3 linked regions of the Homo sapiens genome follow. The protein of the gene in region 1 binds, or shares a complex with, the protein of each later gene. Each region holds a gene or a part of one and is shown on either strand. Other genes may lie near its edges.

Region 1 (10,605 bases):
AGAAGGAGCAAGTCACATCTTAGGTGGATGGCAGCAGGCAAAAAGGAGCTTGTACAGGACAACTCCCGTTTTTAAAACCATCAGATCTCGTGAGACCCATTCACTATCACGAGAACAGCACAGGAAAGACCTGCCCCCATAATTCAATCATCTCTCACTGGGTCCCTCCCACAATACATGGGAATTATGGGAGATGAGATTTGAGTGGGGACACAGAACCAAACCATATCATTCTTTAATAGCAAATTTCAAATTTGCAAGATGAAAAAGTTACAGAGATCTGTTACATAACAATATAGATGTATTTAACACAATTGAAGTGTACACTTAAAAAATGGTTAAGATGTTAAATTTTATATTATGTGTTTTTTTACCACATTAAAAGATACTCAAGGAATTAACCGCTTCTTGGATTTCCCATTTCTATATTCTGCCTACCTCTCTGCAGGGTACTTGGCACCTGTTACCTTGGCCATGTCCCCCTCAAATGCCAGCTTTGCATTATCTGCTGCCCTCATAAGAAGTAAGTCGCCTGTGCATTTCCCATGAGATTCTGTGAGTAATTTTCTTTGGATAATTCACAGCTGGTAAAGCCATTTCAGAATCACTTTCTTCACGGATAGCAATAATTGTTCTCTCTAGCAGGGCCCAAAAGAGAAGAAGCAATTTGCTATACATGCATCACTAAAAGAGATAAGCAAAAATCGCCTTATGAAATTGGCATGGCTTTGCAAGCCCCAGATGATCCCTCGCTTTGACAAAAGCATGCCATGACTCTTGGCCTGAAAGTTAAATTGTTCATCTAATGTATAGTAAATAAACACTCAGTAAAATCATTGTTTCCCTTTAAATTTTCATACAAATAGTTCTATTCCCCTACAATTAAATCTCAAAGCATAATCGGAAACTTTTTACAGATTTTGGCAGATTTTGATTAAAAGGTATTTCCATTACCAGAGCTTAATAATTAGCAGAAATGAAATTTAAAGTATCTCATTGATTAAGTACAGTTGTTAAAAACAAAAGAAGAAGAAAAAAAGCCTGCTGTGGGAATTCTCCTTTTTGGACTCTCCTAGCACATTCTATTCTGTACTACAAATAACTTTTACTTTCTTTAAAAAAAAAAAAAAAGTACCTCTCTTTTATTTACCAGTAAATAGCTAAAGATCCAAGTTTCTCTTTCTTTTTGCTTTCTAACCTATTTTGACTATTTCACATCTCTTTGGACACTTCATTCAGGTATCAAAAGAATGGAAACAAGGAAAGGTAAAAATTAAAGAAAACAATTAGAGTCACAGAAAATACATAAACTCATTATAAATTATATTCCATATGAAATAACAACTCCCCAAAGAGTGCATTACACATGATAAGACTGTGCTGACATACAGTAATGATAGTGTTTTCTCCATTACTGAGTGGCCTAAGAATAATTTAATAAATACAGTGTGCATTGACAAACCAAGACGGCACAGGTCCGACTGCCTTCTTAGACTGGAATTTCTAATATCTTTTCAAAGTTGTTACAAAAGTTCTGTGAACAGTTTTAAGAAGTTTGTAGACCAGGTTACACTCATTTTTTGTTTTACTGAGATTGGTGAAAAAAAATATGTCAAAGAAAGGAATATAAAAATTACTTAAGTTATAAGTAGGAAAGCAAATTATTGTCTAATTTTAATTAAAGTAGACCATAGCCTAAAATAGCTGAACTATGTTGCTTTTCTCAGAAAAAAAGAATGTATCCTGTCTGTTTCTCATATTTTCTATAGGCAGAAAAGAATTAATGAAGTCTTATTTCTAGTTACATTAAACCTATCAAATTTTAATTACATCAGGGAATGAAGTGTAATTTGGTACCATCAAGCAATCATTGATAACGTTTCAAATGTCAGATTCTCTCATTTAATCACACCTCTAATTTATGAGTGACATTTTAGTTATAGAAGCTGATAAGATGTATCAGATAAGTTGATAAAGCAGAAATAGTGTCTTAATGAGCGTTTTAACAGGAATAGCGTCCAAATCTAAAATATTCAAATTTTACCACTTTTAAAGAATAAATGAATTTTCAAAGAGCCCCTTAGGTATGGGTCACAGGATTGCAAACATTTGGCAAAACTCTTCAAGCTGCAGTTAAGCCCTGTCCATTTCACTGTACATACATTATACTTAATTAAAAAAGATTCTTTATCATGGATCCAGATAGCTACAGTCACTTAATAGAAAAGAAAACTCAAGAAATAGAAATTCTCATGCTGTTTGCTATTGACTTTTGCAGTCACTTTAAAACTTTTTTATTCTCTTACTTCAACCACTATTTGATCATTGAATCTGGTCCCAGAGGAATATGTGGAGAACCAGTTGAACCAACTCTTTCTGTGTTTTTCGCACACCTTGTCTCTCAGCATTCATGATTTAGAGAGTTCAACATAGGTTTTGAGGGCACATTCATTTCAAGAGGATTACATGAAAGTACTAACTTTTTTGTGTGGCTAAAAGGGCTTTTCTTTGTTCTGTCACCAGGCGAAAAGGTTTATTTTGGGAATGCTCCCCATGGCAAACCTCTTTGAGAAATGAATTCCGAATTGCATTAAACCCTGTCTTCAGGAACTTCTAGATAAAGCATTTAAAGGAAATACTGGGACATTGTCTATCTTCAACTTTCTAACTTTGAGAAGTGATCTTAGCCAATCTGGAATTTTGATAGATTTCCTAGACACTTCATAAACGTTTAAAATAAGCAACTTTGTAAAAGACTCCACATTTACCTAGCCAAAAAAAAAAAATCCTCTCATAAATGCAAAATTAGTTCACAAGTTTGCAGGTAGGAATTCTTAAAATTTGATACAACTTTTTGCTCATATATAGAAGTGAAATTTACATAGTAGTTAGTTGCTAGTGAATTCATAAATAAAATTTATCGATAACAGATTTTAAGTAATAAGATGAAAAAAAAACTATATCCATAGCAGTACTGCTCAAGGCATGAGTAATGAAAGTAACATTAAAAAAAAATATTGGCCTAGAATCTGTTTCCACTTTTCTGCACTTTAAGACACTCCTACAGAGGCAGTTTGTCAGTCGGACTGATTTATTGGAGCAAGAAGTAACTTTAATCCTTTTCTTCCATTTTACAAAAGGGGAAACTGACACCCAGTCATTCATGAAGATCAATGAACAATTCTTTACATTTCACATGGTTGTCTTTACATGTTAAGGTGAAATATTTAAGGTTAAACTTCAATTGCATATTACTGATGTCTAGAACACTGTTTCCCCAAAATAAGAAAAAAATTTGCTTAGGCTTTCTGCAATTACAATAATAAAAAGCATAGTCTGTGTAACCATTTAGACATGCATTCAAATCCTAGCTCCAAATCCTGGTCCCACAACTAACTAGCCACATGACCTTAAGTGAATTACTGAGACTCAGTTTCACTGCCTATAACATCATAGAAAATAATACAGAGCTGGAAGACAAACATCAGAGAATCAATGAGGTACTGTGAAAAGGTGTCTAATGCAGGTGGTAGACCCTGTAAGGAGTAGCTGATACTGTGTTTTAAATTCCAAATGAGGAATGTGTATATTTACCTTAAAATTGTTTGGCCTTATTCTTGAGCCCAATGACCAGTTAATAAAGTATAACTGAATACTTTAAAATATCATTATCAATTTATAAAAAATATTTCTTAAGCTCATTTTGTGGCAGGTAGTGGGATGGTGCAGAAAGAACATATAACTCATTCAAGTCCCTGTCCTGTAAAAGAAATTAAGTCACACGAAATCAATAGTGACCCATAGATGTCTCTTATGTGATCAAGTGCTTGCTAAGTTGTGGTTAACAGTCCAAAAGTGCTCCAAGAAAAGTAAAGAGATAGACCTCAGTGAGGATTAGAGCAGACTTCCAGGACTCAGTGGAGGAAATTTGAATGGAGATGGAGATGATGAGAAGGCCAGTGGGGAGAGAGAAAAGTCACCCCACAGGAGCCATAGGCATGAACCCAACAAAGCTTGTATAGGAAGGGCAGATCCAACACTGGGTGGAGTCAACTAAGCAAAATATTCATATTCCAAAGCTTCCATATAATTCCTTATTCAGACAACATTGTATATTGTTACTTGGCTCAGCAATTGAATGTTGACCTCGTTCTTACGAGACAGGGAGGATAAGGACTGCAATTCAAAATAGCCAGATTTGGAATTAGCACTCACAACCCTAGACCATATTTCTCATTCCTTTAGCCTTACTCCGTAACCATGTTCCTAACCACATTTCACACTTAAAGTTCACCTTTTTAAATAGAAATTGATTTTCTACTTCCACTGTCCCAGAAAGCATTGCCTAAGAGCCAAAAATCCAAGGTTCTTGTCCCATCTATTCCATTAACTAACATGAAGCAAAAAACGAGCCTCCTGTCTCTGGGTGAAACTGCTACATGGAATGGGTGCTTCTGGGTTTGAAGTTCCACAGATCCAGTAGGGATTTTGCTGATTGGAGGACGGCACAGTACTCTCCAGTGCATCTCCAAGCCTGACTTCCTGACCTCTTTTATACAATCTCTGGGCAAAACTACCAGTCGCTGTTATTTTCCTCTCTGCGGTAAACATGGAGCTCAAGAATGGATAGAAAGACCTTATTGTATTGCTCTACCTGGTAAATAAATATCATGTTGAATTTGCATGGCAGCTTTCTGATTATTTTCATGTCTCCGATAAGCATCAAGTCTGTCATAGGTACAGTATAAAAATGCCTGAGATTGCCTAACACCGATACTGTGGCAGGAAGAGAGGAGAAGAGCTGTACTGGGGAAAATGAGGAGTACTTGTAATCCTCTCTCGGGGCAGTGAGAGGGCCTGGGAAGAAAAGATCGAGCTGTTCCGTGTTGGGGTTAATGTTGGCTTGAAATGAAACTTCAGGGCAAAATGAAGCAGAGCAAAGAGCAGCGCCCACAAACCAACCTTAAATATCACAGCGGCGGAACATTTACCTGAAAGAAAAGTGACACTTGGCATTAAAAGTTCAATTATCACGTTCAGTGCAGAGCCTTGTTCTAGTCTGGAGCTGCCGGGTGTCACATGGTGCGTGATAACTTGCCCTTGATTTGGGTTCATTTGAAGAGCGTAGAACTCTAACAAATAAACAGCCTTTTGGGACCTGTCCCCGGACGAGGACTGCCCCCCTCCCTCGGGCAACTACTACTGATGCTGTCCAGGCATCGCCCAAGGGGAAAGGTTGCAGCGGGGTCGGAAGGCGCGGGAGGAGTCTGGCGGTGATTGATGGGAAGGGATGAATGAATAAAAGTACTTGTCTGATGGCAGCAGAGACCCCGAGCAAACGGTGGAGGCTACACTGTCTGGCATTCTCGCAGCGTTTCGTCAGAGCCGGACCCGCCTGCAGCTCAAGGGAGGCGTGCTCCTCTCCCAGAGCAGGCTGGAACCCAGCTGGGTTCCGCCTCCCGGGAAGGTGGTCTCCATTCGTCGCTCTGCATCTGGTTTGTCAGATCCGAGAGGTAAACATTCGGGCTTGGTGTTGAATTAAAATCATTGATTGAACCTTATTCTGGGGCTTCGGTTTGGCTTACTAGTTTGGGATTTTAAAAAAATAAAAATTAAGCCTATAGAGAGGGCAAATTAAAATTAGGTTGGGTAAAGGAAGGAGCGCGAGTGTTTGAAGCCGTTTGGAGGGAACAGCGGTTTCCAAGTTCCTGCTGACTTGAGAAGTCTCTGCGGGTTTCCGAATCTCCGGCGCACTCCTGGGCGCGCTGCGGGAGCTGTAGCTCAGCCAGCCAGGGAGTAGCGGCTTTCATCCGCCGGGAGGAGTCTTTCGAGTTCAATCGCGGGGTATAGAGGTTCCCCTGCGGGGCAAAATGCAGAGCTTGACACAAGCCCTTGGCCTCTAGGTGCCTTAATTCCGCGGTTCCCACGCACGCTTAACTAAGACGTGTCTGTATTCCTCCCGTTACGTGAAAGAGTTCGGAGCTTTGCCTGGGACCCCCATCATTCCCTCCCTGGCACACCCCTTCCAGAACGCCCCGCCCCACTGCATATTATTTACCCCTCCTGGCCACGCGGGGGAAGAAAAACAGCTGAGAGGGCATCAGGAAGGAGTTTCGACCCGCGCTGGCGAGTCATGAGCGCCAAGTTTCCCACTGGCGCGCAAACTTGAGTTACTTTTGAGCGTGGATACTGGCGAAGAGGCTGCGGGCGGTATTAGCGTTTGCAGCGACTTGGCTCGGGCAGCTGACCCAAGTGTCCTGTCTTCCTTCCTCTGCTTGTCTCTAGGCTCTGAAACTGCGGAGCGGCCACCGGACGCCTTCTGGAGCAGGTAGCAGCATGCAGCCGCCTCCAAGTCTGTGCGGACGCGCCCTGGTTGCGCTGGTTCTTGCCTGCGGCCTGTCGCGGATCTGGGGAGAGGAGAGAGGCTTCCCGCCTGACAGGGCCACTCCGCTTTTGCAAACCGCAGAGATAATGACGCCACCCACTAAGACCTTATGGCCCAAGGGTTCCAACGCCAGTCTGGCGCGGTCGTTGGCACCTGCGGAGGTGCCTAAAGGAGACAGGACGGCAGGATCTCCGCCACGCACCATCTCCCCTCCCCCGTGCCAAGGACCCATCGAGATCAAGGAGACTTTCAAATACATCAACACGGTTGTGTCCTGCCTTGTGTTCGTGCTGGGGATCATCGGGAACTCCACACTTCTGAGAATTATCTACAAGAACAAGTGCATGCGAAACGGTCCCAATATCTTGATCGCCAGCTTGGCTCTGGGAGACCTGCTGCACATCGTCATTGACATCCCTATCAATGTCTACAAGGTAAAGGGCGCCTGCTGAAATCATGGTGGGCTTGAGGAAGGGGGCCTGGTTGGAGACGGGGAGATGAGAAAGCTTGTAGAGGGAGCTTCCCTTTAGCTCCCTCTTAAGGTTCTGCCCCTCCTAAAAGTCAGTAATCTTTGGAACCAAATTCCATTTGGTTCTGTCCACTCATAAAAGTCAGTAACCATTGGAATAAAATTCCATTCAGGTCTTCAGTAGACCTCTGCTAAGCTTAGGACAAGCGTAGTCCCCAGTCTAGCAATGTTAGTATCACTTTGGGAACTTGGTGCACATGAAGATTTTTCTGGCCTCACCCCAGACCTACTGAATCAGAAACTCTGGAGTGGAGCACAGTAATTTGTATTTTAACAAGCCCTTTATGTGATTATGATGAACTGTAAAGTTTGAGAACCACTAGTCCTGAAGGATCTAGTCCCTAAGTGCACCTAATGGGGTACATCCTCTAGTCAAAAGTGTGTGGTCCATGGACAGTCAGCATCAATATTACCTGAGAGTTTGTTAGGAATGCAAGGCTACCTCAGACTTACTAAGTTAGAATCTGCATCTTAAGATCTTCATGTGATTGATATGCCCACTAACTTTGGGAAGGACTGTTTTGGAAGACTTTGAAAGTAGCAGGTACAAAGTAGGTATTTAGGAAATAAATGGCCTGGAAAAAAGAGATCCAGACTGGTGAGTAGGAAAAACACAGTTCACCTGCTGTGACGGACTGTAGCTACTTTGTATTAAATATCTACAGTGGGCCAAGGACTGGGTGAGATGTGTTACTTCCATTATTCCTTCCAGCAGCCCACAAGTAGATATTACAATTAGTTTACAGATGACTGGTAGGATGATCAAAGTAAATGAATTAGAGGTGGAGCTGGGGATCAGACCCAATCTGTCAGGTTCCAAAGTGCAAGCTATATGATGGCACCCCATCAATTATTTCATGGACAAGACCAAGGAGCACTCAAAATCTGTAAGGGTTTCGGTAGTTAACATTATTGTGTGATTACCATGGGCGTCAGTAGAAACACACAAAGAGCCAGGTTGCTCCAGGTTGCTTTGGAACTCCAGACACATCCCAGCACCTCTGGGCCTCAGTTTCCTCAATTCCACAATAAGGCTGCCAGTGCCCACTTACTGAGGCTTTATGGTGTTAAAAAAAAAAAAGCAGTCTAAATAAAACAGTTGGAAAATTTCAAAGACATATGAAAATATTTAAAACTTTCCCAGCAGCAGCAGCAGCAGCAGCAATAGAAAGTTGCACATAAAAACACAATCACAGTGTAAGGAAATGGAATTGTGCTTTGCAGATTTGCCTATAGCTAGCCCTGACTTCAGTACTTCAGTACAAGGGGAAAAAAATGGAATGTAAAGTTGGGAAATGTTGTAGGGAATGCTTTGACCTATTGGCAGGAGTAGTTACCATAAGGCATGCCTGTAAATTTCCCTTCATAAATCTCTAAAAATCCTAACCCAATAGCTATATTTTAAGGGGAATTCCGAACATTTCTGAGGTTTAGCGGTGAGAGTGGATTAGGATATAGTTTTCTCTAAAGGGAATCACCCCCGGAAATGGGGGAATCGATTGAAGAAATCCTAAAATCCTGTATGGCAATTGATTCTGATGAACTGTGAGGATTTACTTGGTAAGAGCTGAAATTGAATCTCTAAATGCAGCCACAACTCCATGAGGGCCAGAAGTGACCCTTTTACTTCTTAAGGCGTCCCACAAACTAAATCTTCCCATTCTAATTTGGCAAAGGAATTTCAATTCAATTCATCAAAACCGAATTGAGAACTTTTCAGTACAAGGTGTTGTGATAAATTTAAAATAAATCTAACAAGATCTCTTCCCAAAGGGAGATTAAAATCTAGTTTTGCTAGGTTGGCACAGGATTTTATGAAAGTTCTGTTTAGGGGGTCAGGAAACCCCACATGTCCAGCCCAGTTAGAAACCTTTCTAAATCAGACAGTAGCTGAAGTGCTGTGTAGAAGGTGGGATTGAGAACATTTTTTTAGTTCTGGTGTGCTGCCTCCAGGACAGATATAAATCAGCTCTTCCAGAACCATCTTATTTCCTCTGTCTGGTTAAATGAGTATTTGTAATAAACTAGAGAATTTCTGACTCCCCAAGAGGTCATACAGTTTCCCTTTCATTTCAAACTCCCATATGATTTCCCTAGGAAGTTACATCCTTTTCCCTGAAGCCATCCAGTCTTAACATGACTGTGTTTTTACTTCTGAAATAAGCCAATGAGTCATTATAAATCTGTCCATCCATTAATCTACATGGGTCACAAACACATTCATCACATTACGTCCCATCACTAAGGTCATCATTATTGAATCCTACCTTGTGGCCTTAGGTTTAGCTTGAGACACAATATCATAATAATGGCTACCAGTTAATGATGCACTAGGCACTTGGTTTATTTCATTAAGTCACTATAACAACCCTGTAGAGGAGGTATCGTTATCATTCCTGCTTTAGATCTAGGCAAACTACTTGTCAGAGAGGTGAAGAAGTAACTTGCCTAATGTCATACCACTACAAAGTAATGAAACTGGGGCTTGAAAGCAGATCATCCAGCCCAAGACCCTGTGGTCCACCCCATCCCACTGCACAAAGCATGCTCAGGCACTGCATGGTCATCTCCAACCTTGAGTATTGTTTTAGGATCTCATTTGGGAGCATTTGGTGGAATTATGGCAAATAATATGCTATCCCACAGTAGAATACTTGGTAAACATTTTCAGAAATTAATTTGAGTCAGGATTTCGGTCTCTTGAAACCCCCTTCAGCTGGTCTGTAGTGTGTAATATCAGTGGAAGTTATTCTAATGGCTTAATTTACCAAAATATCAAATCCAGGACCAGTTAAAAGCCATTTATTCTCCTAAATAATTGTGGCAACGTAGTTTTTTTAATGCATTTAGAATTTCAGAGTAGTCAGGTATGATCATTCAGAAAAAAGTAATTTAAATGAGTTATGAAGGCTATATTTAATATATCCTAATATGAGAGGCTTAAATCTAAACCAGTGATTTCTAATTTTTTTGGTGGGGTTTTATAATTCTCTTTGAGAATTCAATATACACAATTTCTGGGGGTTTGTGAAATTCTCCTACTCTCTTGTTGGCACACTAAGGGCCCAGAGGCCCAGAAATGTCAATGTGAATCTATTCCATTAATCTAGAGTTTAATGAATATAGAGTTCAGTAAAGTTGACAAATCACAAAATGTCATAGCTCTTATTGGAAGCTACAGTCTTCAGGCTGTGGAATTGGTGGGACTTTATCTGGAGTTGCTGCAGTGGGAAGCTGAAAAGCATTGGGAAACATGTCTGATCTGCCTGGACTTCCTCAAGGAGCTGGGTCCCTGGAAACTTTTAGGAAGAATCATACCACTCTCACAGGTCTCCTGTGTTGTGGGTGAAATCCTGTGTTGAAGGCTAGGGAAGTGTCTGAGGACACTTAGCAAGTTGAGGCTGCTGAAGAACTTTAAACTCATGTAAACATGCAGAAAATAATAAGCGTTGCTTACGCTTCTCATAGGCACACACTAGGGCTATGCCTACATTACACAACACCAACCAGAAGAACAATGAAAACTTCAGGCATCCAAAGGAGATATTTATTTAAATATATATGCACGTGTACATGTACATACATTAAAATGTTAAGTTTTATAAGAATATATAAGTAAAAAGATGACTATCATTTGGCACAGGGCATGGCATATAGCAAGAAATGATAAATGTTATTAAAATGTGTGTAT
Region 2 (9,739 bases), on another chromosome or scaffold:
CCAGAGTTCCATCACCCTAGTCCTGTAAACAGAATTCTGGCTTACTTATTCCAGAAATTCAATTCTTGGAATGTTCGAAAACATTGTTTTCCTAATTTGACTTTAGTAGTAAATTGTGACCTTTTGGTTCTTTTTTGAATCCTTAAAGCATATGTGTAAGCAGCTAAATGAAATAATTCCATGTAAAACACGGCAGTAGAATAAACTAGAAATGTAAAATCGTTTCTAGGTAACGTATAACCAGTGTCACAGCCATTTACATTAGATCGTGTTCATCTTCACTTATTCTGTTTTTCTCATCACATGATGTTTTTTAAATTTAAGGCATAAAATCTCTAAAGTACTTTTAAGACAGTCTGTTAAATATATTGCATTTTTTTCTTAAGGAATGTATTGTCATTTTAAACAGCTGGGCTGAGTAATTTAGATATGAGACTTGCACACTATTAGTAAAGATTTTGGCACTGTCTATATGATTTAAATCAGAGGTATTTCACTATACTGAGCAGTGAATTAGGCCTTAAAAAAAGAGGAGCTAGTCTAATCATTGACACTAAGGAAATCAGGCCAGAGTTTGGGTTGTTTGTCTTTTAGGTTTAGTTTTTATGCTTATTAGGATGATAATACTTAATAGAGAAACATTTTAAAGAAGTAAGTAATAATGAAAGTTTTTTATATAATAATGTCTAATTGTTGAGGAAATTATTTTTTATTGTTATATCTTTGAGAATGTTTTAATTTATCATCCTTTTAAGGGCAGTAAGATTAAGCTTATGCTTTATTTCGGTAGGTAACTATAGTATACTACTTGTACTTATGAAATATTATTTTATTATGTATTTGGAGGACATAAGATTTGACATACAAATAAATGATCATGAATTTATTTTCTGTTCCAAAGCTTTGAGCAGTATTCTCATTTATTCCACCTCACTGTCCTTCCTTCCGCTCCACTCCCCCTCATATACAAAATTCCACACCCTTGTCTCCTTCTTCAGCTTGGTTTAAATATTCCAGGTTTGGGGGAAAATGAGCTGAGGGATTGGATTTCTTCTGTTTGGTGGATATTTTTCTATTGCTGCCACCAGGCAGCCCTTTGGGATGCTGCATCATTAATCTTCACTCCTTTTGAACTTGCCCTGTGACTTCCCCTAGTTGAGAAATGTTGGCTATGCAGGGCTTTTGATTTTTCATTGCTTTGACTTTCTTAGAATTGGTTTAGGATCTTAGATGTCAAAAAGCCCATTTCCTTGAATAAACGGATCCGGTATTTCAGTATGGGTTGTGTGCTTCTTTCTCATGGCATACCTTGTATTAGTTACTTTAGTAAGAAGCCACAGGTTTTGGAATTGCTGATTTTTTTCTGTACCTTCTGTTTTTCATTTTCATATTCATAGTTCAAGTCCTTCTCTGCCTCTGGCAGCCTAATTCCAATAGGCTCTCTTGCATCTTGTCTTTCCCTCTAGCCTGTTCTTTCTACTGCAGATATCATGCTGCTTCCTTGCTCAGAAACCTTTGTTGACTTTTCCGTTTCCTGCAGAATAAAATCTTTTAGACTTGGCTTCCCTCTAGCCTTATACTTTTTCCTTAGGGCACCCTTCTCCAAACAGAAACTGTTGGCACATGTTAAAGCATATTTGCACTTGATTTCTGGTATTGTTTATCCTTCTGCCCAGCCTATTTTCCTACTGCTGTGGGCACTTTAAAGGCAGAATTTTTGTAGGTTTTCTTTGAATACCTAACAACCCTTCTATTTTATTATGTGTAAAATGGCTTCTTAATTATGTAAAATTATTATCTTGCTGGAATATAAACTTTGTGCTCTGCTGTTTTCAATATCAATGAGAGCAAATAACTGTCCAGCCAAATTATGTAAACAAAAAAGGAATAGTAAATTATGTGATGACCACAGTGAACACATGGCATCTAAAATCAAATTGTTTGGTTTAAGATTTTTTTTCATATTTATAAGAGCTTTTCACAGTCATTGTATTTGATAAATTAAAGTTGAGAAAATGATAATGGATATTCATTGGAGGAGGATCTGCTATGTTGCAATTATGGCACTTTGCCCTGCAATTTTTTTTTTTTTTTTTTTTTTGTAAAGGTAGATCTCATTTTCTAATTTTTATTTTTGGCCCCAATTTCTTTTTTTTTTTTTTTCCTTTTTTTTGACGGAGTCTTGCTCTGTCGCCCAGGCTGGAGTGCAGTGGCGCAGTCTCCGCTCACTGCAAGCTCCGCCTCCCGGGTTCACGCCATTCTCCTGCCTCAGCCTCTCAAGTAGCTGGGACTACAGGTGCCTGCCACCACGCCCGGCTAATTTTTTTGTATTTGTAGTAGAGACGGGGTTTCACCGTGTTAGCCCGAGTGGTGTCGATCTCCTGACCTCGTGATCCGCCTGCCGCGGCCTCCCAAAGTGCTGGGATTACAGGGGTGAGCCACCGCACCCTTTGGCCCCAATTTCTAATGCATAAAAAGTATGACTGTTGTTGAATGTCTCAGTGATAGGAAACATGCCTATCTTACAGAATTTAATAGATGTTATTTAAACCTGAAAAAGACTGCTGTAATTTTTTAAACAGAAATTGTGTATTCAACCACAATCAATTTTTATTTTGTTACACATGTCTAACTGCCTTGGAAAATTCTGTGTACAACAAATTCACACAGGAAGACCTGAGTGTATTTGAGTGTGTTTGTTGCAGATTTCTTGGTCACATGTTCTGGCATGCAGTTAACCAATGTATGACTCCCCAGAGTATGACACAGTGAAGTTCAGATCCCAGACTCCATTTGAGTCTTACGAACTAAGGTCAGCTCTACCTAATCTTTTAGTGCTCAGACTGGTTTCTGTCATAACTTGTTAGTGCCAATTAAAAGCCGTAACGGAAATAGGGCAAAAAATTTTTTTTAATGAATGTTCATTACCATAAACGTAGTGACAACACAAAATTTATTGTCATACAGTTGTGGAGGTTAGAAGTCCAAAAAGGGTTTCCACTGGGCTAAAGTCAGGTTGTTGATAGGGCTTCTTTTCTTCTGGAGATTCTAGAGGAGAATCCATTCCCTTGCCTTTTTCAGCTCTACAGAGGCTGCCTGCTTTCATTGGCTCATGGTGCCTTCTCCATCTCAAAGCCAGCAATAGCTGGTGGAGTCTTTCTCATGTGGCATCACTCTCCTGCCTCCCTTTTTCACTTGGAAGGACCCTTGTAATTACATTGGGCCCACCCACATAATCCAAGTTAATAGTCCCATCTCAAGATCACATCTGCAAAATTCCTTTTGCCCTGTGAGGTGACATATTCACAGGTTTCAGGGATTGGGACATATTTATCTTTGGGGACCATTATTTTGCCTTCCACAGTCCGCCCTCTGGCTCCCAAAGGCTCATGTGCATCCTGCATGCAAAATGCATTCACCCTCTCCCAACATCTCCAAAAGTCTCAACCCAATACAGCCACAACTGACTGCAAAATCTCAACCAGGGCTCTTGATCTAACTCAGGAATAGGTGAGATTCTGGGTGTAATCCATACTGGGACAAAATTCCTGTCTGTTTGTGGACCTGTGAAACTAGCAAACAAGTTATCTGCTCCCAGAATATGGTGGGTCAGGCATAGGTTATCATTAAATGGAAAGAAAAAAGGAGTCTCTAGTTTTGAGCACTTTCAAAACTCCTTTAGGTTTCAAGGACTGGGGATAGTTCTCTGTGACTCTTTACTCCACCCTGTGGGTACTGAACTTCTCCACTCTTGGGAGTCATCCTTCTTTTCTAATGAAGGGTGTAGCACCTGTATGCTGCTGATTACTTTTATCAGCCTGTTTCTTGCCTCTGGAATTATGGTGGTCTGACAGCATTATTTCATTTCATATTCTTTTACTTCACCTTTTTCCTGTCCCGTTTTACTGTAACCAGCAAGAAAAAACAAAAACAAAGAACCGGCCACATCTTTAATACTTTGCTTGGAAATCTCTTCATCTTAATGTCCAGGTTCATAGCTTACAAGGTCTGCTTTCCACGTAACTGCTGGACTTAATTCAGCTAAGCTTTCTGCCTGTATATAGCAAGGATCCCCTTCCTCTAGTTTTTGATAACATGTTTCACCTTTCTTCCCATCCAAGTCCTCATCAGCAGCAAATTTAAGCTCCATGCGTCTAGCAATAGTATGTTCATGATAATTCACATATTTTCTAAGGTGATAATGTGTCATCTACCATGCTTCTCACTTCGTTCTGAGCCCACACTGGGAGAGACATTAACATCGTATTTCTATTAACAGTATGTCAAGACCACCTAGACTTTTTCTATTATGCTTCTCAAAATTCTTTTAGCCTCTGCCCATTGCCCATTTCTGCATTTTTAGGTGTTTGTTATAGCAGCACCCCATTTCCCATTATCTTCATCAGTATCTTATATATCACTTTTGAAAGTGCAAAATAATTGTAATTTTACATTCTCCAGTCCCTCATAATTTATGTGACTATCATGGTAACACTAAAAGCACCAGTTTCTTACATGTCATATTGAACCCATGGTGTTACTCAAGTCGTAATGTGAAAGAATAAAGCTTTTCTTTGCCTCTTCTTTATTGACATTTTTCCTGATCATCCAGTCTAAATTAGTCTTCCTTCGTCTCCCTTCCTACTAATACCATATTGAAATCATCTTGTACTTTTATTTTTTATTGTCTGTTGCCTTTCTCTATGGCATTGGCCCCATCAGAGCATGAATCTTGTCAGACTTATCATCTGATGGGATGGCACATAGTAGCTGTTTCATAATTGTTGGTTAAATTAATGGATAAATTGTTGAACATTAATTTTGACTAGTTTTCTTTTAAAGGGAAAAATTGGTACATATTCTTTGTGCCTTGGGTATTTTGAGTGAATTTTAGCCCAATATATATCTTGCTGGTTTAGAGTAATGAAAACCTACTACATTATTCCTAACACATTTCTAAAAAGTAAACTAATTTTGGGGACCATATTCTTGTTGCATGATCAAAATCATGATTCTTGGTAAATAAGTGGTAGAGTGAAATGTGATTTTCATATTTGAATATTCTGGGAACTTTGTTTTTAACAGTATTGCTGCCTTGCTGTTTCACATGTTATTTTGCTGCTTTCTTAAAATGCATACACTATTGCAATGTGGCATTTAATATATACTCACAACTATATATTTCACACAGGATGATGTGACTCTGGTAAACCTCAGCTTTCAGGAGCCAGCAGGCTGCTCAGAGGCTCACCAGCAGACTGTTCTTTATGTCTTGCTTGTTCCTATGTGGTGAGGATGATCACTAGTAGCATTTGTAAGATGTGTTCCATGCTTTTCCTGTCAAATTACGCATTAGCCTTACCAGATCCTTAAGAGAATTTACAGTCTACTTGGGGAAATACAATATATACATAAAGATAAGTCCTCATAATGTCAAATGGGGAAGAAAAAATAAAATAGATACTAGGTAGGGGAGGTGAGTGTCAATATTGGGACTTCATTGTTGATCTTGGGGGGTGGAGGTGGAGGTAGCTTGCCTCTCAGATATTACTTTGGTTATAAATCTGTCAGTTGTTTTCATGTATTTCTGAACCTACTATTTAACCCTTACTGGGTGTAAGCTTTGTGTTGTATGGAAACTTATAATGTAGAAGAGACTTTGCTATCTATGAATTTAGTTTTCTAACATTTTCCATGTCTAAGGAATTTTTTTCCCCTCCAAGGTTTATTTAGCTCTGTAGAAAGGCTTTCCAGAGAGGAAAGGTGAGTTGACTTAGAACTCTGGTGGTAAAAGTTTTCCCATGAGACCTTGGGCAAGTTACCAAATTTTATAAGCTTCAGTTTTTTCTTCTATAAATGCTGGATAATAAATATATCTACTTCATAGGGCTAGTGACAAAGTAAGCTAATGCATCTGAAGTACTTAGAATACTACATGGTACATACATTCTTAATAATTATAGGCTATTATTATAAATACTTCAGAGACTCTGTGGAATCAGCCCTCCCTTGCAGTTTCATCCATTTGTGGTCATAGACATTAAATTCTTTTTATTGGCTTTTCTTAGCAAGGATGTGTGTGTGTGTGTGTGCGCGCGTGTGTGTATCTATATGTGTGCATATATGTGTGTGTGTGTATATATATAGTGAAGACTTCAAGAAGTATAAATTCAGTTTTAAACATTAGTTTCTAATCCCACCGTAACTTCCTTGAGGGACTTGGATTTCTCTTTAACAGCCTCCTTACTGGGGCTAGACCAGGTAAATATCTGTGCTGTGTTAAGAATTCTATAGAGAATGCACTTTACATAATCAGAAGATTTTACAAATGTTATAGCAGTAATTTTCTCTTCATTTTATTATCCATTTTTAGAATTAGTGCAGTGGCTTTTTGCAAACTTTTTTTTTTTTTTGGAAAATAAAGCTGTTAGTGTAAATTATGAAACGTTAAGTTTATTCAAAAGATGGTGCCATTTCTCAGAGGAGTTTGACAACTTTCCACAAAATATAAAATCCTTTCTAAAACTTCCTGCACTGTTGACTCAAAGAGATTCCTGATAGAACTCCAGGATTATAACGGATTTACTTTTAGGAGAAGAATGTCTTTAAAAGTGGTGGTAACCTTAATAGAGAAACAGTGAATTGTTGAATCTGTGATAGTATTTGTGCCTTTTAATAAATTGTAAAATGAGTTCCTTAAGACTTACATCTTCAGTTGTATGAAACTCCTCCTGTTACCCTTGCCTCACTAAAGTACAATCCAGAATTTTTTCTAGTAACTGATCTATATTATTCATTTTTCTTGTTTGGGCACATACATCTTATTTGACAGCCGTTGCTGAAGGCTTACTAATTTTGTTCTTCATGGTATTTAAGAGGGATGGAACTTGTAAGTAAACTTACAGTTATAATCAATATAATGTAGTAGGAGTTAAACTGCCTTCTTATATGGTTCCGAAGTTAATCTAATTCCAAGAATTACATTTATTTCGGTATAGCTTGAAATTGATCCATGTATACTAGCTCACTTAAGTTTTCACAAACTGAGCACATTCAATCAGCAATCAGATCAAGAAATGTATGCAAGGTATATTTTGTTACTGTAAAAAGTAATGGTGGTCAGTAAAGTTGCTGGGACTATAAGATGGTGCTCCTCTAATTCAAGACCAACACTGAGCACTTGCCTCCATCAATTCGTCCTCTCTTGCCTCCAGCACCTTTTTCCATCCACCTGATCCACTAGCATCTTCATACTGCTTTAAAGACTCCTGTGTCCTGGTCTCAAGTCATGCCTAGCTTTAAAAGTGATAAAATCCAAGTAATACACCCCTTAAGTAATTTTTAATCTATTTTTTTATTTAAACTTTTCAGAATATTCAGAAAAATAGGCAGTGTTCATATTTTTCCTTTTTCACTTTGCAGTCACTCTTTAAATTACTTTCTGCTTTAAATTATTGACTTTCTGATTGATATAGAAGTATTGAGAAATAGGCAGTCATGTAACCATATCAATCTATATATTTTTTAAAGAGGTAATGTGGTGTTTATTCCCGTGTACTCTTCTCCTTCTGGAGTTCCTTTTATATGAAGGTTGGGCTTCTCATTCGAACTTAATTGTAACCTCTTTGTGGTTTTTATCTTTTTGTGCTACTTACACATTTTCTAGGTTCATTTTTATCCAGTTGGTAATAACTAATCTACCTATTAATAGATTGAGCTTTACATTTTAGTGGTGAAATTTCTATGTCTAAAAACCATTTCTAATCTTTAGCTTGAAAAAGTGTCTGTTATTCTACTTCTTTATTTTCTGGCTTTTTCAAAGCCATTTTCATTATATTGTACCTATTTCATAGTCTGAAAAACGATTTTTGAAGTTCTTGAGCTTCAGCTATTTATGGTGTCTTGACTCTGTCTCGAGGTAAATTGTGTCCTCTTATAATTTTTCATTTGTGAGCATATATTAAGCAGTACGTTGTCTGTGTGAATCCTGTACACCCTGGGTTGGCTGCAGTTTTCCTTTCAATCTCGTGGATGCTGTGTCCTTCTTACTTGGTTTTTCCCAGGCAGCCCTTTCCTGTAGAGCCAGTATGAGGTAGCCAGGTTCTCAGCTGTTTCGAGTGCTTTGCCTTCTCTGGTTATCTCAAGCATCAGGAAAATTATATGTTGCATACATTCCACAGAGGTCCCATGGTGATGGGGAAAGGTCAGCTCAGGCATTCCCTCTGCTTAGCCACACTTCATCATACTGCTTGGATACATGTTGCTGCCTAGGAGACTTTCTTAACCCAAACAGGCCCCACTGCCTTTAGCAGTTTCTTCATCTTCTCTGACATACAATTCAGCTTTGGCCCAGAGTGGAGATTAAGATATGGGTCTGACTCTGCCTCTCTTTTCCCTGTGTGACTGCTCCAGTTGCTCCTAACTGAATGCCCTGTAGCTCCCAAGCTTGCAGGCTCTGCCATGGGATGCCTGGGAAAGTAAGGCACTTGTACTCTTCCATTTTTGTCTGGATGATACCAGTGTCTGCCTCTTCTCCCATTATTCATGTAAATGCAAAAGAGAAAAAAAGCACTTTAATAATTTTCAAAAATTTCTCATATTACATTCTCTATTGTGTCTGGCTCTGAAGTTAGGTTTTTGTGTTTTTTTCCCACAATTATTCCTACTGTATGTCCTTGCTGCAATCCAAGTGCTGACCTTATTTTTTTAGAGCTCGTTCTTTTTAAAGTTAAACTTTACTATGCATAGAAGTAATTTTGAATCTTTCAAAATGCAGATTCTCATTGAGTAGGTCTGGGGTGGGGCCTGAGATTCTGCATTTCTCATAGGCTCCCGGGGTGCTTGTATTGCTGAGCCACAGTCCAGTCCATCTCAGAGTCCTAGAGGAGGTAATCTTCTCTGGTTCTTTTCCATTTATCCATTTCATAAGCATTTCTCACATCTTATCTGGCCTTTGCCACATTCATGAAACCTATCACTTTATCAGTAAGGTATTTAAAACACTGCCTTGCACAGAGTAAACATTCATCATGTTCTAGATATTCACATGTACATGAACACACACATATCTATCACACTTAATATTATTGCTGTTTTATAGTTAAACTTCTTCTAATGTCAATCTAGAAACTTGTTTTAGTAGTGCATTTTGAGAGAAACCATTTGGTATCATCTTGCATGGAAACATCCGCTTCCTTAGGAATGACCAAAAACTATAATTAGTGATAATGAATCTTTTATGATTTGGCAAGAGTGTTTTAAGTGGAGTTCTTTTGATGATACGATTGTTCAGGTCAGGCTGAAAGAGCCCCAATAATAATGTTTTTCTGACTGTTTTCCTCTGGTAATGTTTGTGATAAAATTCCTTTGTCATAAATAAATATTGTTGCTGGTGCAGACTGAATATTTGTATTCCCCCAAAATTCACATGTCGAAACCCTAACCCCCAATGTGATAGGGTTTGGAGATGGGGCTTTTGGGAAGTAATTAAGGTTAGATTAGGTAATGAGGGCTGGTCCTTCATGATGAGATTGGTATCCTTATTAAAAAAAAAAAAAAAGACACAGGAGCTCTCTTGCTTGTACCAAGAAGTGGCCATATGAGACATAACTCAGTGAGGGCCCTCACCAAGAACCAGACCATTCTGGCCCCCTGATGCGATCTCCAGCTTCTTGACCTATGAGAAATAAATGTTGTTTAAGCCACCCAGTATAGTTTTCTGTTACAGCAGGCTTCACTG
Region 3 (9,783 bases), on another chromosome or scaffold:
GTAAAGGTCAGAGACAGGAATTGAAACAGGGCTTAATTCTTAAACAAGAAGGTATAAGATATTGCAGTTGATGGAACTGTGGTGAGCATGTTCCCCAAGGGTGGTGAGCATGTCTGTGTGGGCATAGAAGATACATGTACGAACATTTTTATTTTATTTTATTTAGATGGAGTTTCACTCTTGTTGCCCAGGCTGGAGTGCAGTGGCGCAATCTCGGCTCACCACAACCTCTGCCTCCCGGGTTCAATGATTCTCCTGCCTCAGCCTCTTGAGTAGCTGGGATTACAGGCATGCGCCACCATGCCTGGCTAATTTTGAATTTTTAGTAGACATGGGATTTCTCCATGTTGGTCAGGGTGGTCTCGAACTCCTGACCTCAGGTGATCCACTTGCCTCGGCCTCGGGATTACAAGTGTGAGCCACCATGCCCAGCCAAACATTTTTATTTTTAATAGCTTAATGAATGTATAATGATTAAATGTTTAGCATGTATTAAACTATGATTTCATGTAGTTTTTTTAACCATACCAACCATGATTTCATATGGATTATTTAAGCATACCAACCATAATTTCATGTACATTATTGCTTAAGATAGTAATGATATAAAATTTTCTTAAAATTATTCATGTAAAAGAAACAAGTCAGTTAAAAGGAAAATATTAAGTAAAAATGTACAGGTGGCACCCAAATATGGTAAAAATTGTGAAGCAGTTTAATGAATAACTGAACTTTGGGAAATGCTAGATTAGAGAATTGGAAATACTCTTTTAAATAAACACTTGCTATCTATGATTATCCTATGGATGAGTGTCCAAGAAATAGAGATGCATATGTTGTATGTTTTTAAAATGTACAGGATGAATTTACATTGACCATCATATTTCCTGTGCTAAATCAACCATTATTTTTTGGACTATAGGGAGAAGCTGTGTTTCTTCATAGCTCCTGGAGATGTGTGATGTGTCACAGGCCTAATAACTATATTACACATTTTTTCACAAAAGTGCTACATAGAGTAGAAATGTATAATAGTTACCAACCCAAGACTAAATCAGGCCTAGTGGTGTGGATAGCTTCACTTTGCCTATGATAAAATACTTCCTCATTCTTTGTGTGATTTTCAAGCAACTTAACGACTGTTAGCTTTGCTGAGCTAAATGCAACATCTCATACCAAATTTATTGGCTTGGCAAAGTTACAAATTTTATTACGCAAAAGTTGAGAAAGGAAAGCTGGAGAATGCTAAAAACAGTACAATTTGCTACTGTGTAGTATCTGTATTGGGGGCTCAGCATGTTTTATTTATAGATATCTATTAATACAGAGATACAGAAAGAAATACATAAAAAATAGTTTTATCAAATACTTTCCAGCATTCAAGTGTAGCCTCAAAAGCAAGAATAGGCCAGGAGTGGTGGCTCACGCCTGTAATCACAGCACTGTGGGAGGCCAAGGTAAGAGGATTGCTTGAGGCCAGGATTTCAAGACCAGCCTAGGCAACATAGTGAGATCCCTATCTCTACGAAAAAATTTTAAAACTTAGCTGGGCATGGTGGCTTGAGCCTGTTGTCCCAGCTACTCAGGAGGCTGAAGTAGGAGTGTCACTTGAGCCCAGGAGGTTGAGGCTGCAGTGAGCTATAACTGCACCACTGCACTCCAGCCTTGGAGACAGAGTGAGACCCTGTCCCCAAAAAAATTAAAATTGAGAAAAAAAAAAAAGGCAAGAACAGCCACAGCAAACTTTCTATTGGGGAAAAAAAAAAATCCTCCTCTTTACATCTCTCCCTTCCTTCCCTTCCCTTTCTGAGAGTGACTGTGGCCAAAAGGAGCATTTTCCCCCTGCAGTCCTCTGAGGGGTGGGGTGGGGCTATGAAGCTATCCTTCATATTCACTCCTTTGTCCAGCTCTTTTCACCTCTAGTTCTTCTCCCCGCATCTCTGTCTAGCAGTGCCTTAAGTGGAGGAGGGGTGGGGGCATCAAGCTTGTAAAACTGGTTTGTTGGGGTTCTCCTTCTCCCCTCATTTCTTGATTCTTGGGAAAATGTCTTGCTGGGAGGCTGCCTGGCAGTGCCCTAGCTGCCTTCTGTGGGCTTGAATGGGGCTTCCCTCTGCCCCTACAGGAGGAAAAGGGAGCTGCTGCCAGAGGGAGAAATGGAGAGATGGACAGAGAAGGCAGGTGCCACCCCTCGCCCCTGACACACAAAGAAAAAGACACGGAAATTCTCTCTCTCTCTTCTCTTCTCCTATCTCTCTCTCTCTCCCTCTCTCTCTCTCTCTCTCTCTCTCACACACACACACACACACACACACACACACACACACACACAGGCGCGCGCGCGCGCGCGCAGGCACACGTCTTGCAAATTCAGGATTCAAAGAGACAGGGGCACCATTATATTTGGCACGGTGGGGCCCTTCCAGGTCTGAAATCCTGCATTCTTCCTTACTATTTACTTTCCCCGAGCTCGAGAAGGGCCAGGTGTGGGCGGATGGCTGGCCACGTTTTGTGTTTCCAATTCATATTCACGGGATGACACAGACGGGGCGTGGTGAGTGCTGTTGGAGGCGCTTGGGCAGTTTCATTTTGCCCCACTTCTCCACCTGAAGGCTGGGCGTTGCTGGAACCTGCAGGGGCAGCCTCAGCAAGGTGGGGTGGCGTGGAGTGGGGTGGGAGAAGGGACTCCAGCTGAAGTAGAACCCAGGCTGGACCTGAGAATATTGGGGAGGGCATGGGCGGTGGTTTCCGGGTAGGGGCCTTGAGAACATGTTGGTCCTGACTGTTGTCAGTGTTTGGTCAAAGTTGCCAAAAGGTTAAAAAAAAAAAAGTAGGGGGAGTCCCTGCCAAGACATATTTCCCAGGCCACCTTTCTTCCGCGGGAGTGTTGGGGGGGAGGCGCTGCTTGGAACCTGTGAATGTGACATCAGCTCTCCTCTCCTCTCCCAAGGTCGGCTTTGGAGAGGGAGGTCAGGGCACCCTTGCCTGGCACAGGCGGCAGCGCTGGCTTCCGGCTCAGTGCCGCCTGTCCTCCGGGAGCTGTGGCCTCCCTGGGCCCCGGGGCTAGGCTGAGGTAAGCGCACAGCGGAGGCCAGGGGCCCCGGCAGAGGCCCTGGGGATAGGGTGGAGGCATCTCTGGGTGTGGGTGTGGGTGTGGGTGTGGGAGGGAGAGTTCTTGCCTCTCTCTCTCCCATCTCCAACTCTTGCTTCAGTGGCTCTTTTAGAGGATGCATGTCATTATGGACCTGTCGCTGCCACTGTCCCTGTTCCCCCAGCTGTGACTTCGAGGGAGGTCTGGGGATCTGAGTCTGTCCAAACCCACGGCTTTGCTGTTGGGATAAAAACTGTCCTTTTGATTTTAGAAGGAGGAGGGAAAAAAGGTTTCCCAGCATGTGTGTTGTGCCAGTCTTGGAAATTCATCCGTGCTTGAATTCCACCCTCCATCCCCAGAAAAACTGGAGTAAAACAAAAAGAGGAGATGGACAAAGTGTGTATTTGATGGCATCCCCTGGGAAGAGACTCTAAATTTATCCCATAGGTCTTACTGGGCCACTGTGAGCGCTTTGGTGGAGAACAAACAAAAATTCTGGGTGCTCAGTTGTCTAACCTGAAAAATGGGACTAGCGGAAAAAGCCAATGTGTTCCATGCACCTTTTGCTTTCTTTATTAAGGCATGATGTCACCTGTACAGTAACTGCCCTGTGTGTACTTCAGGGGGGGATTTCAAGGTTAGATAGACAGGAAATTGTTTTGAAAATGTAAACACATTATTAAATGTGAAGTATTATCTGATTCCTTGTTCGAATGGCATTTCCTTCTCAGCACCACCTTCCTTGCATATTCACTTAACCTTGTACAAGAACACCTTTTTGCCCTAAATGAAGACACCCCCCCAAAAAAAAGAGTCCCAGAAAATATGTCCCTGCTTGTGCGGGGAATAAATAGAATATTCTGAGGTGCATTCCTCCTTCCTATGTTAGGCAACATTCCTTGACCCTCCTCGGCCCCCAAGCCAGGTTGCGTTTTTTTCTGCCATTTAGAAGGGTTTTCCTTTTTGTCCTAGTAAAACATCAGCCCCTGTAGCTCTTCATCTCCCCCTGGTGTTCTTCTCCCGCCATGTCTTAAGATTGGTGGCACCGACCAATCTTAAGATTTAAGTTCTGTGTGAAAAACACCTTTGCTTTTCAATCAGTTTATCAGCCTCCTCCGCAGGGGAAGTGTGGACACACAAAAGAACTTATCGGGGCTTCTCATCAGTGATAGGGAAAAGACTGGGCATGTGCCTAAACGAGCTCTGATGTTATTTTTAAGCTCCCTTTCTTGCCAATCCCTCACGGATCTTTCTCCGATAGATGCAAAGAACTTCAGCAAAAAAGACCCGCAGGAAGGGGCTTGAAGAGAAAAGTACGTTGATCTGCCAAAATAGTCTGACCCCCAGTAGTGGGGCAGTGACGAGGGAGAGCATTCCCTTGTTTGACTGAGACTAGAATCGGAGAGACATAAAAGGAAAATGAAGCGAGCAACAATTAAAAAAAATTCCCCGCACACAACAATACAATCTATTTAAACTGTGGCTCATACTTTTCATACCAATGGTATGACTTTTTTTCTGGAGTCCCCTCTTCTGATTCTTGAACTCCGGGGCTGGCAGCTTGCAAAGGGGAAGCGGACTCCAGCACTGCACGGGCAGGTTTAGCAAAGGTCTCTAATGGGTATTTTCTTTTTCTTAGCCCTGCCCCCGAATTGTCAGACGGCGGGCGTCTGCCTCTGAAGTTAGCAGTGATTTCCTTTCGGGCCTGGCCTTATCTCCGGCTGCACGTTGCCTGTTGGTGACTAATAACACAATAACATTGTCTGGGGCTGGAATAAAGTCGGAGCTGTTTACCCCCACTCTAATAGGGGTTCAATATAAAAAGCCGGCAGAGAGCTGTCCAAGTCAGACGCGCCTCTGCATCTGCGCCAGGCGAACGGGTCCTGCGCCTCCTGCAGTCCCAGCTCTCCACCGCCGCGTGCGCCTGCAGACGCTCCGCTCGCTGCCTTCTCTCCTGGCAGGCGCTGCCTTTTCTCCCCGTTAAAAGGGCACTTGGGCTGAAGGATCGCTTTGAGATCTGAGGAACCCGCAGCGCTTTGAGGGACCTGAAGCTGTTTTTCTTCGTTTTCCTTTGGGTTCAGTTTGAACGGGAGGTTTTTGATCCCTTTTTTTCAGAATGGATTATTTGCTCATGATTTTCTCTCTGCTGTTTGTGGCTTGCCAAGGAGCTCCAGAAACAGGTAGGCACGCTCGTTGACTTGTAAGTCTCGGAATTACAAGTTAGTGTGTTCTTATCCACCTTCATGCTTTTCTTGCTTCTATTTTTCCCCGTTCTTTTTATGACTGCAGCTTAGAGAGCAAGTGTCTGAGAATTATTGCTGAAAGCTACTTTAAGTCTTCTAGTGTAAAATGTAAAATTCCTCTATTGAATACAATTAGGTGCAATTGACTATAACATGACATTAAAATAACTTATCGTTTTATTATTATTATTCCATTATGTGTTTCCTTGGCTTTTAAAAAATGAGAAGAGTATGGACATATACAATTTAGTCAAATGTATGTTTGTAATATATGTGTTTATACAGGTACACAGGCCATATAGGAACTTAAATCTTATTTAAACACTATTTTAATAGTGTGTTAACGTGTAAAATATTTAAGCATTCCAGCTTGAAGCCAAGGAATTGTATCCAGTCGTTCAAGCAATGTATGTTCAGTAAAATCACCTGCAGAGCAAAAGTCTGTTGACTAACTACCGCCTCCCCCCCCCCCCGCCACCACCCCCCGCAGGCGGTTTCTGGGTGAAGCAGATGTTTTCTTTAAAATTTGTCATCATTGACTTTAGGTTTCTTTTGGCAGGTTTTTGGCACCCAAAACAGTGTGAGCTCTCTTTTCAGCTTTATTCACCTGTGCTGGGAGGGGAGCTAGGATAATTCTTGGCTGCCGAAGGATTTAGGCAGTGCGTGTGCATCTGCCCGGGTCCCCCCCGTTTTTAGGGTCAGTGCACTTTTTTTGTCTTTTCGTGACCCTGACTAAAGAGAAAGGATGTCAAGGGAATGAAAATCCTGGAATGTGTCTGATCATTTGAAATGTACAAAATTGGGCAGATAAGCTGCATGGCTAAATTGTTAGGAGGAAGAGGCAAGGCAGTAGTGGAGAAGGGGGAGGCAGTGGATCCCACACAAGCCTGATGCCCAGGGATTCGGAATTCAAAATCCCCCCAGCCTACCTTCAGTCCCCTGACCTGCTTCTCAGCCCCACCTTAGGTCACTGGTTTCTATGGAGTTACCCTCCTGAATTGAATATTGAATAGTTAATTTCTCTCTCCAATCATTTTCCCCACCTAATTTTGAAAGATATACATCATCTGGGGTACCCTGTGCCCTACACAGCATGTGAAGTGGATGGGTACCCCCTAAAGAGAGGGTCATCCTGAATGGGGAAGTGGCCCCAAAGCTAGGAATAACTGTGATTTCTTGTCTTTAGTCATGTGCCAATGTTAAGTAAGCTTCAGTGGATAGTGCTGTCCTACCAAGTTCCTTGTAGAAGCCAGCCGGATTTTCAACAGGCAGCATTCCACAGCATTTCCCTGAGCCTGCTTCAAGAGGGGTGGGGGAAGTCCCTTTTCAGGTGTTTATCTCCTCTGCATTTGTGTAATCTCCCTGAAGGTGGATAAGCCAAGGGCATGAGGGGGAGGCAAAAGGTGAACTCATGTTAAGGAGGGAAAAAAATAAAGAGCCCTTTTTTCTGTGTTTCTTGCTGATGGCAGGCTGTGTGCTTCATCTGCTTTTATCTGCTCTGCTAGCTCTGACTCTACTGTGATCCAGCATGTCTCTCGGCGTTTGAGGAGACATCCCCCACTGACCTGCTCTTTCTCTCCCCAGCAGTCTTAGGCGCTGAGCTCAGCGCGGTGGGTGAGAACGGCGGGGAGAAACCCACTCCCAGTCCACCCTGGCGGCTCCGCCGGTCCAAGCGCTGCTCCTGCTCGTCCCTGATGGATAAAGAGTGTGTCTACTTCTGCCACCTGGACATCATTTGGGTCAACACTCCCGAGTAAGTCTCTAGAGGGCATTGTAACCCTAGTCATTCATTAGCGCTGGCTCCACTGGAGCCCAGTTTTAGAGTTTCTTTTCTAGGGACTCTGAAGGTAGTCCTTCTAACACCATCCAAGTGCCTCAGTGGGGACAGTTTCCCTCTATTCCTGAAAATAACGACAGCTTCGTTCTTAGCAACCAAGGGGAGGGTCTTCTGAGGCCCCGTAGCTCAGGCTACTCATGATGGGACAAGCAGGAGGCCACTGCACGTTTCAAATGAGGAACTTTCAGTGAGAGGGCCTCAGGGGGACACTCTCACAGTGGCATCTGATGGGGTTTCGGGAATAATTGCCGAGGTCAGATGTGGGTTAGTGCAACCTGTGCTTCTCATGGGAGGGTGGAGACTGAGAGGCAGAAGTGATGATATAGAGGGTTAGAATCACTTAATTTTACTTACAGAAAAACCTAGGCTCAAAGTGTTGAAGCCATTTGTGCAGGAGTGAGTTTGTAGCAGAGCTAGAACTGGAGCCCGGATTTCCTTTGCTGCTATATTTTCCCTTTAGAAATGCCCATTTCAGAACTGAAATAGAAATACTGTCCATAGGCTTCTCTTTCACCTACAGAGAAGAAAAGCAGATTTCCTCCTTCTGCCCTGGACACTAGTTCATCATCTGTCGGAAGCAGTCATAAACAAGCACACATTTACTATGCATACAATGTACCGTTATGACAAAGGAGGACCAAAATCCAAACAATATCAAACCACACCAAAAACCACAAGGAGCCTAATAATTACTAAGGTGATACTTCCAAAGGGAGGACTTTATTTCTTAGATGAGAATGAAAATGGACACATTGGAAATTATTGGAGAGCCCTCTGGCTATGAGTCCTTCCACAACCATATGGTACCACCGACTGGCAGGAGAAATGTGTGAACATGTGCCTCCTCCTCCCCCAACCACTGGGGTCGGTGGGGTGACGGTGGCACTTTTAGCAGTATCCTCCGTGGTTTGAGTTGAAAATAAGTTTTAAAAATCCTGTGAGTCATGGTTTTGCATTGAAACCTCTTCCCACTGTGTACCCACAAATAGTTAACTAAATAGACCATTAGAAAAGGAAGAAAATATAAAGCAGATGCCAAGCAGAGATGTCCTAATTTTTGACAAAAAAGCAATGTTGCTTGTGTCAAGAAGAAACTGAACTTTGTGAAGAGTTGAAATGGAATTCCACTGAATTAGAAAAACTTGTTTTCTCCTGCCTGGATACATACAGTCAGGGCCATTGATGCACAGGTGTTCCTGGCTGTTGTTACACTTTACCCTCTGAAATGATGCTCCCAAGTGCTATGTGATGAGCTCCTTGTGTGCCCAGTGGAATAGGTGTGTCCATGTGTCATTTTAAAGACTATTAATTACACTAATATAGTTTCTTTCTCTCTTTGGATAATAGGCACGTTGTTCCGTATGGACTTGGAAGCCCTAGGTCCAAGAGAGCCTTGGAGAATTTACTTCCCACAAAGGCAACAGACCGTGAAAATAGATGCCAATGTGCTAGCCAAAAAGACAAGAAGTGCTGGAATTTTTGCCAAGCAGGAAAAGAACTCAGGTGAGCAGAAACACCTTTGCTTTTCAATCAGTTTAACAGCCTCCTGAACTCCTTCCTATCATGGTACTGCCTTCCTGTTTTAGAGAGACTAACAGAGACATTGAAAGTCAGGGTAAAGCTGAATATAACATTGCTGAAATGTTTTTCCTTGTGTATTTTAACAGGGCTGAAGACATTATGGAGAAAGACTGGAATAATCATAAGAAAGGAAAAGACTGTTCCAAGCTTGGGAAAAAGTGTATTTATCAGCAGTTAGTGAGAGGAAGAAAAATCAGAAGAAGTTCAGAGGAACACCTAAGACAAACCAGGTAAGAGGGAAGGAAGAAAAATTAGGTAAGAGGTTCACAAGAACAACTAGCCCCAGTCAGTGATGCCAGCAGCCTGTTCCTCCAGCCCTTCTTACCCGGGCAGGTGAAAGACTTAGAAAACAGTAGCAGAGGAGATCTATGCATCCTATAGATTAAAAGGAGCAAAAGAATCCCTCTTAAATATTTCCATGAAGCTCTGGAATGCAAACCGATGTCCTCTGTACTTTTAGCACATACCATTTCATCTACAGGTAGATTTCCCAACCAAAATATATCCAGAGATGCCTTTGTCATTGGGTTATATACAGCCTTTGCCTCTCTGAGTCAATGTATTTACCACTTTCCCTGAGAAATCGAAAATCATTTTGGGGAGCGGACATTTAGAAAAAGAATCAAAGTGTCATGGATAATCAAATTCTTCAATAAGTTGCAGTTATTCAGATGGCCAAAGGAAAAATAAAGTCATTAGATAGGGTTGGTAGAATTTAGAACATGCTGTTTTTCAGGTTTATGGTCTTTTTTTTTTTTTTTTTTTTAAATAGGGAAATGTGTTTGGTGCAGAGCCAATGTCATTCCAAAAAGCTCTCTCTTTTCCTGGTCAGTCATGTGCTGGGACAGAGAAGGGATCTGGATTAGGCAACATCATAGAGTTGCTCTGAGCTGCTCTTTGGTGATAACCCTTCCAAATCCTAAACTTTTTGGAATTCACAAGCTCAAAGGAGGAAACCTACTCTCTGATCTACCACATGTTCTGCATTTTTCTATCATGGTCTATGGAAACTTCTCTTAGAAATCCAGTGGCAA

What was found.
Region 2: the proteins of EDNRB (region 1) and GNAI1 are in contact, whole or in part, in a cryo-EM structure (PDB 8XWP), measured with the Homo sapiens proteins. Residues at the interface, in NP_000106.1 of Homo sapiens: Asn134, Pro136, Ile140, Asp198, Arg199, Ala202, Val203, Trp206, Ser207, Arg208, Ile209, Lys210, Ile212, Met296, Met300, His314, Gln317, Arg318, Val321, Thr324, Val325, Leu386, Val389, Ser390, Lys391, Phe393; in NP_002060.4 of Homo sapiens: Ala31, Arg32, Glu33, Lys192, Asp193, Leu194, Glu318, Tyr320, Phe336, Thr340, Asp341, Ile343, Ile344, Lys345, Asn346, Asn347, Leu348, Asp350, Cys351, Gly352, Leu353, Phe354.
Region 3: the proteins of EDNRB (region 1) and EDN1 are in contact, whole or in part, in a cryo-EM structure (PDB 8XWP), measured with the Homo sapiens proteins. Residues at the interface, in NP_000106.1 of Homo sapiens: Pro88, Pro89, Ile94, Glu95, Ile157, Asn158, Lys161, Glu165, Asp166, Trp167, Val177, Pro178, Gln181, Lys182, Val185, Phe240, Ile243, Met245, Tyr247, Leu252, Ile254, Leu256, Leu257, His258, Pro259, Lys270, Lys273, Leu277, Trp336, Leu339; in NP_001403492.1 of Homo sapiens: Cys53, Ser54, Cys55, Ser56, Ser57, Leu58, Glu62, Cys63, Val64, Tyr65, Phe66, Cys67, His68, Leu69, Asp70, Ile71, Ile72, Trp73.

What each region holds. Positions count from the first base shown.
Region 1 is NC_000013.11:77,914,305-77,924,909, reverse strand, and holds the start of EDNRB (endothelin receptor type B isoform 1 precursor), read left to right. Parts: upstream 1-6,078; 5' UTR 6,079-6,285; coding exon of another isoform or gene 6,286-6,336; coding exon 6,337-6,819; intron 6,820-10,605. UniProt on the Homo sapiens protein: Non-specific receptor for endothelin 1, 2, and 3. Mediates its action by association with G proteins that activate a phosphatidylinositol-calcium second messenger system.
Region 2 is NC_000007.14:80,137,831-80,147,569, forward strand, and holds part of GNAI1 (guanine nucleotide-binding protein G(i) subunit alpha-1), read left to right. Parts: intron 1-9,739. UniProt on the Homo sapiens protein: Guanine nucleotide-binding proteins (G proteins) function as transducers downstream of G protein-coupled receptors (GPCRs) in numerous signaling cascades.
Region 3 is NC_000006.12:12,285,426-12,295,208, forward strand, and holds the start of EDN1 (endothelin-1 isoform 1 preproprotein), read left to right. Parts: upstream 1-4,935; 5' UTR 4,936-5,204; coding exon 5,205-5,268; intron 5,269-6,915; coding exon 6,916-7,084; intron 7,085-8,515; coding exon 8,516-8,671; intron 8,672-8,835; coding exon 8,836-8,979; intron 8,980-9,783. UniProt on the Homo sapiens protein: Endothelins are endothelium-derived vasoconstrictor peptides. Probable ligand for G-protein coupled receptors EDNRA and EDNRB which activates PTK2B, BCAR1, BCAR3 and, GTPases RAP1 and RHOA cascade in glomerular mesangial cells.